Linked DNA regions of Homo sapiens. The protein of the gene in region 1 purifies or fractionates together with the protein of each later gene. This does not show direct contact. Each region holds a gene or a part of one and is shown in the gene's direction. Other genes may lie near its edges.

The links. The genes of interacting proteins can lie anywhere in the genome.
Region 2: the proteins of CECR2 (region 1) and SMARCA5 purify together in Homo sapiens (affinity purification with mass spectrometry; 3 studies listed by BioGRID and IntAct, with this or other methods). This does not show direct contact.

What each region holds. Positions count from the first base shown.
Region 1 is NC_000022.11:17,547,433-17,554,459, forward strand, and holds part of CECR2 (chromatin remodeling regulator CECR2), read left to right. Parts: intron 1-715; coding exon 716-2,132; intron 2,133-4,598; coding exon 4,599-4,710; intron 4,711-5,402; coding exon 5,403-5,408; 3' UTR 5,409-7,027. UniProt on the Homo sapiens protein: Regulatory subunit of the ATP-dependent CERF-1 and CERF-5 ISWI chromatin remodeling complexes, which form ordered nucleosome arrays on chromatin and facilitate access to DNA during DNA-templated processes such as DNA replication, transcription, and repair.
Region 2 is NC_000004.12:143,516,695-143,523,721, forward strand, and holds part of SMARCA5 (SWI/SNF-related matrix-associated actin-dependent regulator of chromatin subfamily A member 5), read left to right. Parts: intron 1-660; coding exon 661-735; intron 736-4,734; coding exon 4,735-4,901; intron 4,902-7,027. UniProt on the Homo sapiens protein: ATPase that possesses intrinsic ATP-dependent nucleosome-remodeling activity.

The sequences.
Region 1 (7,027 bases):
TGTTAGCCAGGATGGTCTCAATCTCCTGACCTCGTGATCTGCCCGCCTCGGCCTCCCAAAATGCTGGGATTACAGGCGTGAGCCACCGTGCCCGGCCCCTAAAGATGCCTTTTGAGTTTCATGTTGTAGGCGTCTTGTCTTCAAGACATGCAGACAAAATGAATGTATTCATTCAACAAAGTGATTGAGTCTGTGTGCATGAACTGAGAGGACAGTGAGACGGAGAAGTCCCTCCTGTGGAGCTTTTATTCTCGTGGAGCAGAAACCAGGCATTTGGCCTTCCTGAGCGCCCGTCATGCCCTGTTCTTTCTGGTTGCATCCCATTTTAGAGCTTCCCAGCATGGCCAGTGATTCTGATGACAACCATCCCCTCCCAGTGTGTTTCACGTGCATCTGCCTAGAGTCCGTGAGCCACAAGCCGTCTCTCAGCCTCTTACGAATCGGGCAACCCACGGTTAAGGACATTTCCATTCTCCGGCCCACTGTAAGAGTGAATGTAGAGGTGCTAGGTTTTACCTTTGTGTCCGTGAAAGGGGTGAAAGGAAGTGTACAGGGACCCCAATGTCCTGCCCTCTTTCAGGGACTCAAACAATTTCCAGGTGGGGCTTGAATCACCACACATCCACCTTAATCTGACTCAGGCATGTTCTTCACATTAATACTGTCATTTCAGCTACTGAGTTATTTTTTCTCCTCTTTTTTTTTTTTTTTGCAGCAGAGCCGTTGCCTGGCCTTGAAGAGAAACCACCAGGTGTTGGTACTTCAGAGGGGGTCTACCTCACACAACTACCTCACCCCACACCTCCCCTGCAGACTGACTGCACCAGGCAGAGCTCACCACAAGAAAGGGAAACAGTGGGCCCGGAGCTCAAAAGCAGCTCCTCCGAATCTGCGGACAACTGTAAAGCAATGAAGGGCAAGAATCCCTGGCCCTCGGATAGCAGCTACCCCGGCCCAGCCGCCCAAGGGTGCGTGAGAGACCTCTCCACGGTGGCAGACAGGGGCGCTCTATCCGAGAACGGAGTCATTGGGGAAGCATCTCCTTGTGGATCGGAGGGGAAGGGCCTTGGTAGCAGTGGTTCCGAAAAGCTGCTCTGCCCCAGAGGCAGAACGTTGCAGGAAACCATGCCATGCACGGGACAGAACGCAGCGACACCGCCCAGCACAGACCCCGGTTTGACGGGAGGCACTGTGAGCCAGTTTCCCCCGCTGTATATGCCTGGCCTAGAGTACCCGAATTCAGCTGCCCATTACCACATCAGTCCAGGCCTGCAGGGTGTGGGCCCTGTGATGGGAGGGAAGTCCCCAGCATCCCATCCCCAGCATTTTCCCCCAAGGGGCTTTCAGTCTAACCACCCACATTCTGGAGGCTTTCCCCGGTATCGCCCCCCACAAGGAATGAGGTATTCCTACCACCCACCGCCACAGCCTTCCTACCACCACTATCAGCGAACTCCTTACTATGCCTGTCCACAGAGCTTTTCTGACTGGCAGAGACCTCTCCATCCCCAGGGAAGCCCAAGCGGACCCCCAGCCAGTCAGCCTCCCCCACCAAGGTCCCTCTTCTCAGATAAGAATGCCATGGCCAGTCTGCAAGGCTGTGAGACACTGAATGCTGCCTTAACTTCTCCAACCCGTATGGATGCAGTGGCTGCTAAAGTCCCAAATGACGGGCAGAATCCTGGTCCAGAGGAAGAGAAGCTGGATGAATCTATGGAGAGGCCAGAGAGTCCCAAAGAATTTTTAGACCTGGACAACCATAACGCAGCTACCAAGCGGCAGAGCTCGTTGTCAGCCAGCGAGTATCTCTATGGAACTCCTCCGCCTCTGAGTTCAGGAATGGGATTTGGTTCATCTGCATTTCCACCCCACAGTGTGATGCTGCAGACGGGGCCTCCCTATACCCCTCAGCGGCCGGCCAGTCACTTTCAGCCCAGGGCTTACTCTTCCCCTGTGGCTGCCCTCCCACCTCACCACCCAGGGGCCACCCAGCCCAACGGCCTCTCTCAGGAGGGTCCCATCTATCGCTGCCAGGAAGAAGGCCTGGGTCACTTTCAAGCTGTGATGATGGAACAAATTGGCACTAGAAGTGGAATAAGAGGACCTTTCCAGGAAATGTACAGACCATCAGGGTAAGATTGCATTCAGGCTTTTCCCCCTAAAGAGAGAACAGATGTTTATTTTATGTATTTATTTTTGAGACAGAGTCTCACTTTGTCACCCAGGCTGGAGTGCAGTGGTGTGATCATGGCTCACGGCGGCATCGACCTCCCAGGCTCAAGGATCCTCCTGCATCAGCTGTTTAAGTAACTGGGACTACACACATGCCACCACACCCAGCTAACTTTTTGGTTTTTTTTTTTTTTTTTTTTTGGTGGAGGTAGGGTTTCACCGTGTTGCCCAGGCTGGTCCTAGTCTCCTGAGCGCAAGTCATCCTCCTGCCTCAGCCTGTCAAAGTGCTGAGATTACAGGCATGAGCCAGCACACCTGGCCTGGATGTTCATTTTAAACAGAAAAATGGCCTTAGAGATGAAGATAACAGTTCATGGTCTAGGAACAAAAAAAATATGTGAATTATTGATGTTGTACACTCTGTAGGAAGGTATTAAACTTAGAGCCCAACTTTATCTTTGAAATTTTTTCCACTCATGAAAATGAACTGGCATTTAAATGACTGACTTAGATTTTGATATTGTAAACTTTATTTATTTATTTATTTATTTATTTATTTTTGAGATTAAGTCTCACTCTGTGGCCCAGGGTGGAGTGCAGTGGTACGATCTCTGCTCACTGCAATCTCTGCCTCCCAGGTTCAAGCGATTCTCCTGCCTCATCCTCCCAAGTAGCTGGGATTACAGGTGCCCGCCACCACACCTGGCTGAGTTTTGTATGATACTATAAACTTAATAACCACAGTTTGAGAGCTGTAAGCAAGCCTGTGTCAACATTGCTGCCATGTGGAGACACTCTGACCAAGGTAAAAAAAAAAAAAAAAATAGGCCTACCCAGGAGTAGAAGAGGAGATCATGTAGTATTGAAGTTTTACTACATACCTCTCATTTCTTACCCTATCATTGAATGAGAAAACCAGGTTTATCCAGAATGCAAACAAGTCCCCATGAGACTTCTTTCACACATGCTTGTGTAGTGTTGTTCTCCAGATCCAGTTAGGTGATCTGCCATCCAGGAAGTTTTCAAATCGATAGATACAAATGAAAGTTATGAAGCGGCCAGGCGCGGTGGCTCACACCTGTAATCCCAGCACTTCGGGAGGCCGAGGCGGGCAGATCACGAGGTCAGGAGATTGAGACCATCCTGGCTAACACGGTGAAACCCCGTCTCTACTAAAAATACAAAAAATTAGCCGGGCGTGGTGGTGGGCACCTGTAGTCCCAGCTACTCGGGAGGCTGAGGCAGGAGAATGGCGTGAACCTGGGAGGCGGAGCTTGCAGTGAGCCAAGATCATGCCACTGCACTCCAGCCTGGGCAACAGAGCAAGACTCTGTCTCAAAAAAAAAAAGTTATGAAGCATAGTCTTGAAACCAGTACCATTCAGCATAAAAACCAGTGTTCCCCTCCTCAGTGCCATCCTGTCATCTTATTGCTAGACCCTCTCTACTATTTAACATTTTGTCGTGTTTGCTTTATATGTCTCTAAATACCTGTTTTCTTTGCTTTGCTTTTTTTCCTAAGCTGTTGGAAAGTAAATTGTAGACATCATGGCCCTTAACCCCTCAATACTTGAGCATGCATCTCCTAAGAATGGACATGCCTTGGAGCACCATTTCAAAACGATTACCACACTCAAGGCAAATAACAGTATCTAATAGAGTTTTTGTTTCTGTTTCCTCAGTTGTCCCCAGAGTGTCTTTTAGAGTCGTTTCTTTGTGTTCTATTTTTATTGTTTTTTTCTGATAAAGGATCCAATGAAGGCTCATGGATTTGCATTTGGCTGCCGTGTCTGTTTAGTCTCTTAATTTATAGCAGTTGTCATATCTTTGTTTTGTTTTCCAAAGAGTCCAGGCCAGTTATCATGGAGAGTGTTCCAGATTCCAGATTCATCACACAGTCTCCTTGTGTGTAGATGAAACTCTTGTGCCAGGTGCAGTGGTTCATACCTATAATCCCAGCACTTTCGGGGGCTGAGGCAGGAGGATTGCTTAAGCTCAGGAGTTCGAGACCAGCCTCGGCAACATAGTGAGATCCTGTCTCTAGTGAAAATAAAGAACTTAGCCAGGCATGGTAGCACACACTACTCAGGAGGGTGAGGCAGGAGGAGCACTTGAGCCCAGAAGATTGAGGCTGCAGTAAACCATGATCCTGCCACTACATTCTAACAGGGTGACAGAGCAAGACCCTGTCTCTAAAAGAAAAAAAAAAATAGATTAAACACTTTTGTCAGGAGTGCAGTAGGTGGTGCGTGTGCGTGCCACTTACTGCCCCAGGGGGCACAGAATGTCGAGTTGTCCCAGTATGGATGATTCCAGGCCTGATCACCGGGGTGATGAAGGCAGTACCCTCGTGACTACAGTGTCTTGTTTCTTCTGTCGTTAACACGTCTTCATTAATTCTTCATTGCTTCTTTCTCGTGGCTGTAGAATGCAGATGCACCCGGTCCAGTCGCAGGCCTCGTTCCCAAAGACCCCCACAGCAGCAACATCACAGGAGGAGGTGCCGCCTCATAAGCCTCCAACACTTCCCCTGGATCAGGTAAGGATCACTAAAAATTAGAGCTGTTCTTCTTCCTCCAGGTGGTAGGAAGTAAGTATATGACAACCTTGCTGTTCTGAAAAAATGTTTTAAGGTATCCTGTGGATACAGGAACTTTGCCTGTATCGTGCTTCCTTGGCACTTGGAAAAAGAGCAAGAGGCCTCGGAAGTCACCTCTCACATGTCTCTTTTTCTTATTGTGATATGGAATGCATACCTATTTGGTGAGTATTTAAACCTCATTTTTTCCAAGCCATCTGCAAACATTTTTTCTGCCATGATCCCTTGTCTGTTTTATGCTTCCCACCTTTCTCATTGGAGAGAGACTAGTTGGTGGGTTTTAAAGTAGTAATAGCTGCCTCTGAGTGCTGCTTCTCTCCCATGCGTTGTCTCGTGCAGTGCTTCTCTCCCATGCAGTCTTTCCCTTGACCCCCACAAAGTAGTTCTCATTGGCTGCATCATCATCATTTCCCAGTGTGCAAGTCCTACTACTGTTAAGCACTGGGACTGGGATCTGAATTGAGAAGTCCAGGACTCTAGAACCTACCCTCTGGAAGTAAACTGTAACTGATGAAACAGAATCAAGCCATTTTCACACATGAGGAGCTTGGACATTCTTTGGCTTACTTAAGTTTTTTTTTTTTTAACAACCCAATTTTTATTTTTGTTTAAAATGTCTTTGTTTCTTTCAGAGCTAGTCCAAGGAGGAAATGAGCCCCAAGCAATGGAAAGCTGCACACGAAGACTGGAATGTGGAGAACTGGGGAGTGCCCTGTCAGCTCTATTCCCATCACCTGCTCCACCCCTTCACGGCGACCCACTCGTGCCATACTTGAGCTGGAGCCAGTCACGGGCCCTAAAAGGACACTCCTTAGATGACTGACACACAGATTGCAAAGGTCCTCGGCCAGGGATCTCTTGCACAGCTGATGTAGACAGTCAGGCAAAACTAATGAACGTGGAGTTAATGATGACTTTTCCAAATCCTGAGACACTTTTCAGGGAAAATCACTTTAAACTTGGGGGAGGGGGTATACTCAAGAATGGAGTGGTGCTTTTAAACTTTGATGAGCAGCTAAACTCAGGTATATATTTGGGGAAGGGACTACTCTTAGTATTAATGGTTTTGGAGCTGGGTCCAGTTTACAGAATTTTCATGTTGCCTTTTAAAATAATTTTTGTTGGTGGTGAATGTATTGTACATAAAGTGGGAAGGGTGGGTGGGGATGCGGAAGAAATGGGGGTCCTAACTGGTGGGCACACAGCACTGGAGTGATTTTTATCTGTTTACAATCATGTCACACTGAATACTTATGGGAGCCGGAGATGAGGGTAGGAAAGGTTTGATCTTGTAATATGTCACTGTGTTTCCTTAGTGGCCAGCCAGCCTTCAGAATAGCTAAAGGCCTTCCTTCCTTCCAGTCAGCCTGAGAGAGAACACCTGTCCCCTAAGCACCTGGTGTCTCCATTGGAGGCAGACTGCTCTCAGGAGACTACTAGAAGCTTCAGCCCGGAAGACAGGCTGCTCTCTCATGCTGGTGGCCCAAATTGAGAAAGTGGTGTCCCTTCCTGATTTTGCCACCAGCCCTACCGAATAGTTGTAAACCAGTATCAGGAATTGGGATCGCTAGAGTGTTTCACGTATTAGAAGATGAATCGTCCTCATCACAGACCTCCCTGTCAGGACTGTGATCTAGAAGGCATCACACACAGCTTTCTGGCACGAATCACATTTTGTGGAAGTGACTACTCAGGTTTGTATATTTTAGTATCAATAAAGAATTGCACAGGTTTGAATAGGAAAAATGTATTCTATAGATTTACAGTTTGAATTTAGGAATATTTCAGTATATATAGTTTTTATTCGTTTTAAGTGAATCATAGTAAAATCAGTCATGGTGATTTAAAATAGCTATCAAGAACAAGTTCTTGGAATTATCTGTTGTATCTGTGATAGGAAACCATTTTACAGTATTAAATTACTTTATTACAGTTGTAGAGTTGAATTACACTGGATTCTCCCTCGTTAGCATTCTGTATTTGATTTTAGCTGAAAGGTCACCAAAGTTAGGACCCATGTTTTAAACTTTTGAATATTCCACAAAAGAAAAAACTAAGGAAAATACTGAAATTACAGGTCTTTGTAAAGAATAGCATATTTTTAAGCATGCTTTTGGGATAGTAGAAGAGTCTCTATGAAATATTAATCTGCCCTAGTTTCTTATAAATTCAGCTGTGGGAGGGGCCAGTAGAGTGTTTCCCTCCAATTCCAGGATTCCTAGTGAAGCATGGAACTGTCGTGTTTACAGTTTGCTAA
Region 2 (7,027 bases), on another chromosome or scaffold:
AGATTTGTGCATCATTAATGAAGATTACTTCTGCCAATTTTTTTTAATGGATGAATAGAACTTTGCAGTGTAGAAGTTGTTTTTTGTTGCTTGTGACATATGAATGTCAGGATAAATATATTTGCAAGAATAACATTTATTACTAGTTTAGGAATCAGACTGTAGTTAGAGTATTCAATTTAGGCTGCGAGATAAAGTTTTTGTAATATTCCAGAAGGTGGAAATCAGGGTGACTAATTCTGATTTCTTTGTAGACATTTGTGTGGTAGCACAGTAGATACTGTAGTTTTATGACAAAAGGGGAACTTTTCCCCACATTTTATACTATTTAGTTTGGTTTCATGGTTATTACAGAAAAAGAGAAACAGATTGGCTTGTATTAAATGTAGTTTTCTTTTAGGATGATGAAGATAATCTTGTGTTCTAATCTTGGCAACAACCATACAGTTTATATATATGGGTTAAATACGTTGTTATCCCCATAGTATCTAATATCATTTTATCAGTTTTTCTGTTAGCTTAGATGACAGCTGTTTAAGTTTCTAGGAAGTTTGGGGTGAGAATGTATTATTTAAGATGTGTTTTGGTCAGAAATTGGTCTATAATGGTATGTTTACTATTTTCGAAGACCAATTCTATTTAATTATTTCTTTCTACCAGGAAATATTTGATGATGCGTCACCTGGAAAGCAAAAGGAAATCCAAGAACCAGATCCTACCTATGAAGAAAAAATGGTATGTTCTAGGCTTGTGAATAGAGTCTATAAGGAAAACTTTTTATCAGGTGATTAAATGTACTAAACATCTATCTTAGTCCATTTTGTGTTACAACAATACCACAGACTGGGTAATTTATAAAGAAACGAAATTTATTTCTTAGAGTTCTGGAGGCTGGCAAGTCCAAGGTCAAGGCCAGCATTTGTTGAGGGCCTTCTTGCAGTGTCATTATATGGAGGAAGGCCAAGAGAAGAGAGCAAGACAGGACTGAACTTTCTTTTATAACAAGCTCACTGGTGATAACCTCCTCCTGAGATACTGACAGTAATCTTTTCCTAATCACCTCTTATTAGGCCCTACCTCCCAACACTGTTGCGTTGGGGATTAAATTACAACATGGGAGATTTGGAGGGGGACACAGTCAAACCATAGCAATGTCTGTTTAATTTTTGTAATTATGGCACAGATATCCATTTGAAATATGTGTAATATGGAATACTATAACTTCCATATCTTATGTGTCTATGTAAGCCAAATGGAAGTATTATATGAATTAACATAATATGATGTCATTATCTAGTTATGTTAACAACACCTTTAAAAATTTAACCTTGGAAGCGAGGTGAAGACCAGAATAGTTACTCAGTGTATGTTTATTCTGCACTTGACTAGCATTGTACTCTGCTAGTTACCAAAAAAAGAAATATGCTCCTTGTTCACAGCATTTTTATATTATAGATGGGGTCTTTACAAAAAGAACATGACATTATATTGGAGTCATTCAAGTCCCAGTTCACGTTCCGTATCTTCTAAGAAACTTCTCAAAACTATGACTTGACTTAAACAGTACCTACACAGAGCTTTAAATTTAAATTCAGTTTTAGTAATAGTAGTAGTGGCTAACAGTGAATGTTTACTCCGTATCTGACCCTGTTAGGAATGCTTTATATGGATTAAACTCATTTAATTGTATTGAAATCTCAAAAAGTTAAAATAACAATGTATTAAATAAGAATACCACTACACAGTGTGCTCCTGTAGGGTAAAAACAGTGTCTTAATCTTTCTTTCTGTCTTCAGTACCCAGAACAGTATCTGGCACATAGCAGATCTTACATATTTTTTAAAACATACTTTTTTCTTGTCCTTTGACTTTCTCTTCCAAATCAGTAAATATTTTTGAATGTCTTAAATAGCTTCAAAATCTTAAAATTATGGTATGTATTTTATGTGCATGTATAATATGCACAATACATATAACACTATGTAAATTATAAATGATATATCTTTAGGTTTGATTTGTTATATATTTTACATATGTATATATGTAACTGTCACCTTTTTTGCTATCAAACTTAGAGAAAAAATAGATTTGCCGCTCTGTTTTTTTAAAGTGAATACTACTTTGAATACAGTCTACATATTTTAATACTGCTTTAACCCTTTATAGTTTAGATTCTGACACACTCTGCTGGTGAATCTAATTGCCAATTCTGAGGCTTAGTTTTAGTTTCTTGATTTGTGCTTGACATTGTTGACCATTCCTCAAAAATCTTGACTTGCCTTGAAAGACATTTTTTCCCGTGATAATATCCTCTTTGCTTTTTTATTCCTTTGTCCTTCCTTATTAAAATTTGAACATTTCTTCCTAGACAGTTTGATTCTTACTGGTTTTTACCTGGTATCTTTAAACTGAATATTTTCAAATACTTAACCTCTAGCCCAGAAGCCTGTAATCCGTATTTTCATTTACTTTAAAATCCTATTCATACCTCTTACTTGAGAATATCCAAAACTGAATTCATAATTTTTACTTAGCATACCTTAGTGTTACCTCAATGAATGAAAGTTCCTCTTCAGGTATACTCAAGATGTTCATGACAGTACTGCATACTTGTAAACAATAAGTTTACTTACGAGTTTATTCTCTTTTCCATATCACCCTAGTTTAGTATTTTTCTATTATTGCATGGATTATTTTGTGCTTCTGTATTTGCCTCCTTTCTTATGATCTGGCCCCTTCCAAGTTTCTTAACATTTTTGCAAAGTGTTATTTATAACACAAATTTGACTGTGAAATGGAGGTTTTTCAGTGGCTCTCTACAATGCTTTTCATTTTCTTAGTGGCCTTTATTGGAACTCTTTTCGTTTCTTCCAGGTTTTTCAGTCTCCCAGCATTATTTCCTTTTTTGACATCATGATCTTCACCTGCACAGTTTTCTTCTAAGCAAGAAGCTCCCTTGTCATCTGCTAGTTCTAACCATAGATAAGTTCACTATCCACTCCTCGTTCTTGAACCCAGAATGCTGAGTACTACTTCAGAAAACTAAATACTAGTGCTGATTGGTGCCAGTATAAGTTTATGGTTTTTATTTTCTTGGACCTTGAGTATTTATTGCCTATCAGTCTCATTTAGCCATTCTAAAATGTCCCCACTCTGATCAGTCTTTCTTCTCCATTTCTACCATGCCCTCATTTCCAATCTTCCTCCACAAAGAATTGCAGGCCTGTCTTTATTTTCTTTCTCTTTTCAAACATATGTATAGCCTCTATTATCCTACCTCATTTCTTCCTGTTTCAGAGAAAGAAGCTAGTCCAAAGCTATTCACTTTAATTTCCGTTTGATTTTATAATTGATTTCTTTCAGGTTCCTAATCATACTCTCTTGTTTCTGCTTTTTAGGTTCTGTTGGTTTTTCTCCCTCAAGACATTTCAGTTTTAACCTTTTCATTCTTTCAAGCAGTTTATCTTGATTCCAAACATAATTACAATAATTATTTTTTCAGTCCAAACATCTTGTAGATGCGTGCTCTTGGCTTTTGTTTCATTATCTATAAATTAAGAAATGTAATTATGTAAAATATGCATTCACATATGTATCTTGTTCAGCACTTTAAAAACAGTCTGTAATCTTGGAAAACATAAATAACAGAGGCTTGTCATCTGTAGGACATTACTGGGGTTCTAGCATGTTCACAGTCTTGTTACTGTGCAGATTCATTTGCTGCTATGACTGCCATTTGTGACCCAATGAAACACTATAACCATGTGCCTTCCTAATAGCAAATTGGGCTTCAGTTTTTACATTGGTGTGACCTTAAAAAATGATTATGTTCCTTTTAAAAATACGTAGTTGTTACAACATTATGGCATTTGGATACTTCTTGTGTTTGCTAGGTAAAATGTCTTTTTGTAATTTATTCCCAAACTGACATTTTAAACATTTATAGACAGAGATGTTGAGTAGTTGGTTTCCCTGTTTATTGAGCTTTTCTTGTCTTGCTTCTCCTTTGTTTCATCAAACTATTATTGTTTTTGTATAAAGGCTGCCTAATGGCTCCCAATTTCATTATTTTTATGAAAATTTGTCTTCGAGGCTCTTAAGGTTTTTTTTGCCCAAGTAAATTTTTTCCATTCTCTCGGTATTATAATAGGGAACATTCAAAGGGGCAGATGGCAGATACGAAAGGAAGGAATAGTATCAATCCCAATACCGTTTTAAAATTTGTCACAGCCTAACTAATGAATGAGCACTGCATTTTTTCCAGCTTCTGAGTAAATTCACTTGTATTGCACAGTGTTTAATATTTTAAAAATTGTTCCGATCAACTGTATTGAAGTATAATTGACATAAAATAATTTTAAGTTTGTAATTCAATGAGTTTTAGCAAATATTTCTTTAAATACCATCACAATCATGATGCAGAGTAGTTCCATCATCCCCAAAGTTTGCTCCTGCTCCTTTCTAATCAGTTCTTGCTCCCACCTCCTTGCCACTTCTGATCTGCTTTCTATCACTAGTTAGCATTTCATTTAAGTGGAATCATACAGCATGTAGTCTTTTGTGTTTGGCTTCTTTCACTTTGCATAGTGCTTTTGAAACTCATCCATGTTGCATTTATCTGTAGTTCTCTTTTTTTTTTTGCTGAGTTCATTGTATGGAGGCATGCTGAAACTTTGATTTCTGAAGTTTTAATTGATACTCTGATAAAATGTATCTTAAATTTTTTTTTTTCAGCAAACTGACCGGGCAAATAGATTCGAGTATTTATTAAAGCAGACAGAACTTTTTGCACATTTCATTCAACCTGCTGCTCAGAAGACTCCAACTTCACCTTTGAAGATGAAACCAGGGCGCCCACGAATAAAAAAAGATGAGAAGCAGAACTTACTATCCGTTGGCGAGTGAGTAATAGTTTAAACTTCATAGTTCAACCAAACTTATTTTCGATAGTCTTCAGTGGAAGCATAAAATCACTATGATAAATAACTTAAAATTATTTTAGTGCCATTATTTATTTGGCCCTGTTTGGCTTGGCATGATTTAGCCATAAATGTATAAGTATATAAAAATACGCATAATGGTTAGAGCACAGTGGCTCTTGCCTGTAATCGCAGCATTTTGGGACGCCAAGGTGGGAGGATTGCTTGAGTCCGGGAGTATGAGAGCAGCCTGGGCAACGTAGGGAGATCCCATCTCTACAAAAAAAAAAAAAAAAAAAAAAAAGAATAAAACTGCATAACGCCTTATTTTTTGTAGCATTATATAGTTTATGAATTGTAACAATCATGTTGAGTATGGAATTTAGATGTCACGTCATTCCTCAGAGAGGAAACAAATGCAGAGGTTAAGTGGCTTGTTTAACATCACATTGAAGAATGATCCAGACTTGAATTTGAATCTGACTTGGGTGTGCTCTAGGCTCCTCCATCACATACAGATGTTGACAGTATTTTATCTAAAGTGTGGTGTGTGGGATATTGTGATGACTTACATCACGGCAGCCTGTTTAAAATTTTTATTGCATACTTAGTTGTTTTTATATAAATTGAAGTGTCACGTTGTATGCCGTCCTTTGGTGGTGGTTGAAAATAATTCTTACATGTTGAATTTGGAAATTCTCTAGAATTTTCATTCTGGTTGGATAAATAAGATGTTTAATTAGTAATAGTAGATTTAGGGCAGTCTTGGCTCCCTGAAATGGCTTTGTGTAATTCCCAAAGTGAAAACTGTGATTAGTAATTAAAATACAAAAGATTGTTTAAAAGAAGAAGTATCAACAAGGTTAAATTCACTACACAGTTTGTTGAAAGAGGGAAGTATGATCTTCATCTTGAAGGGGTTATCGTTGTAAGCATAATACCTTTTATTTGGGGTATTCCACTCATTCATTATATCTTATTTCTCATCCATTGTGACCAAAGCACTATTTTAATACTTACGAAACTTTGAAGGGACAATTTTGCCCTTCAGCTGTATTTAAAATATTTCAGACTTCAGAAGTTTGCATTAGTGTCATGGCATGAAACTGGAAACTACTGTACTGAATATTGTTATGGGATAGTCAGTATGATGTCTCGAAAAGAAACACTTCTTTTATTCTTTTCTATTTTATTATTATCCTAATTTATCTTTTTTATAAGATAAAAAAGATTCTATTGGAAATAGTAATAATAAATTGTTAGGCTTAATGTATTAAATAGTGTTATTAGGGAAAAAAGTCCTAGTTAACAGATTTCTTTACTCCTCAAACCATCTTAAATGGGAAGCTAATTTACCTAAAGTAATGAGGGTCATAGTATTGTCTTTGGGTATCAGGAATACATTTTTTTAAATCTTTTTTTGTTTGTTTGTTTTTATTGAGACAGAGTCTTGCTCTGTGGCCCAGGCTGGAGTGCGTGCAGTGGTGTGATCTCGGTTCACTGCAAGTTGTGCCTCTGGGGTTCAAGCGATTCTTGGACCTCAGCTGGGATTACAGGCTCACGCCACCACGCCCAGCTCATTTTTGTATTTTTGGTAGAGATGGGGTTTCACCATGTTGGCCAGGCTAGTCTCGAACTTCTGACCTCAAGTGATCCACCCACCTCTGCCTCCTAAAGTGTTGGGATTACAGGCGTGAGCCACTGTGCCTGGCCAGGAATACGTTTTTTTTTTAAGTCATTCACGATTATATTCAATTTTTAACAATAAATGACATCTCAGCTTTTAAGTTTTACAACTGTAATAATCAAACATTTTGAGAGTAACTATAAAGGATATTTTATAAAAAGAATTTAAAATTATCTCCCAGTTTATGGAGAATAAATAGGGGATGGAAGTAGATCTTTGTACTCAATTTCATAGGCTCAGAATGCAGAGAAGTACAAGGAATAACAGACTAGGATGTACTGATTATGATTAGAAGCATATATAACAAACAAGAAGGCCCTTGAATTTCTGAGGAATGCTTCTATCTTGGAAGGCCGCTTATCCTTTTAGCAAGCATGTGGTTTTGGTAGAAATGAAGTTACAAATTAGATTCAGCGGTCTC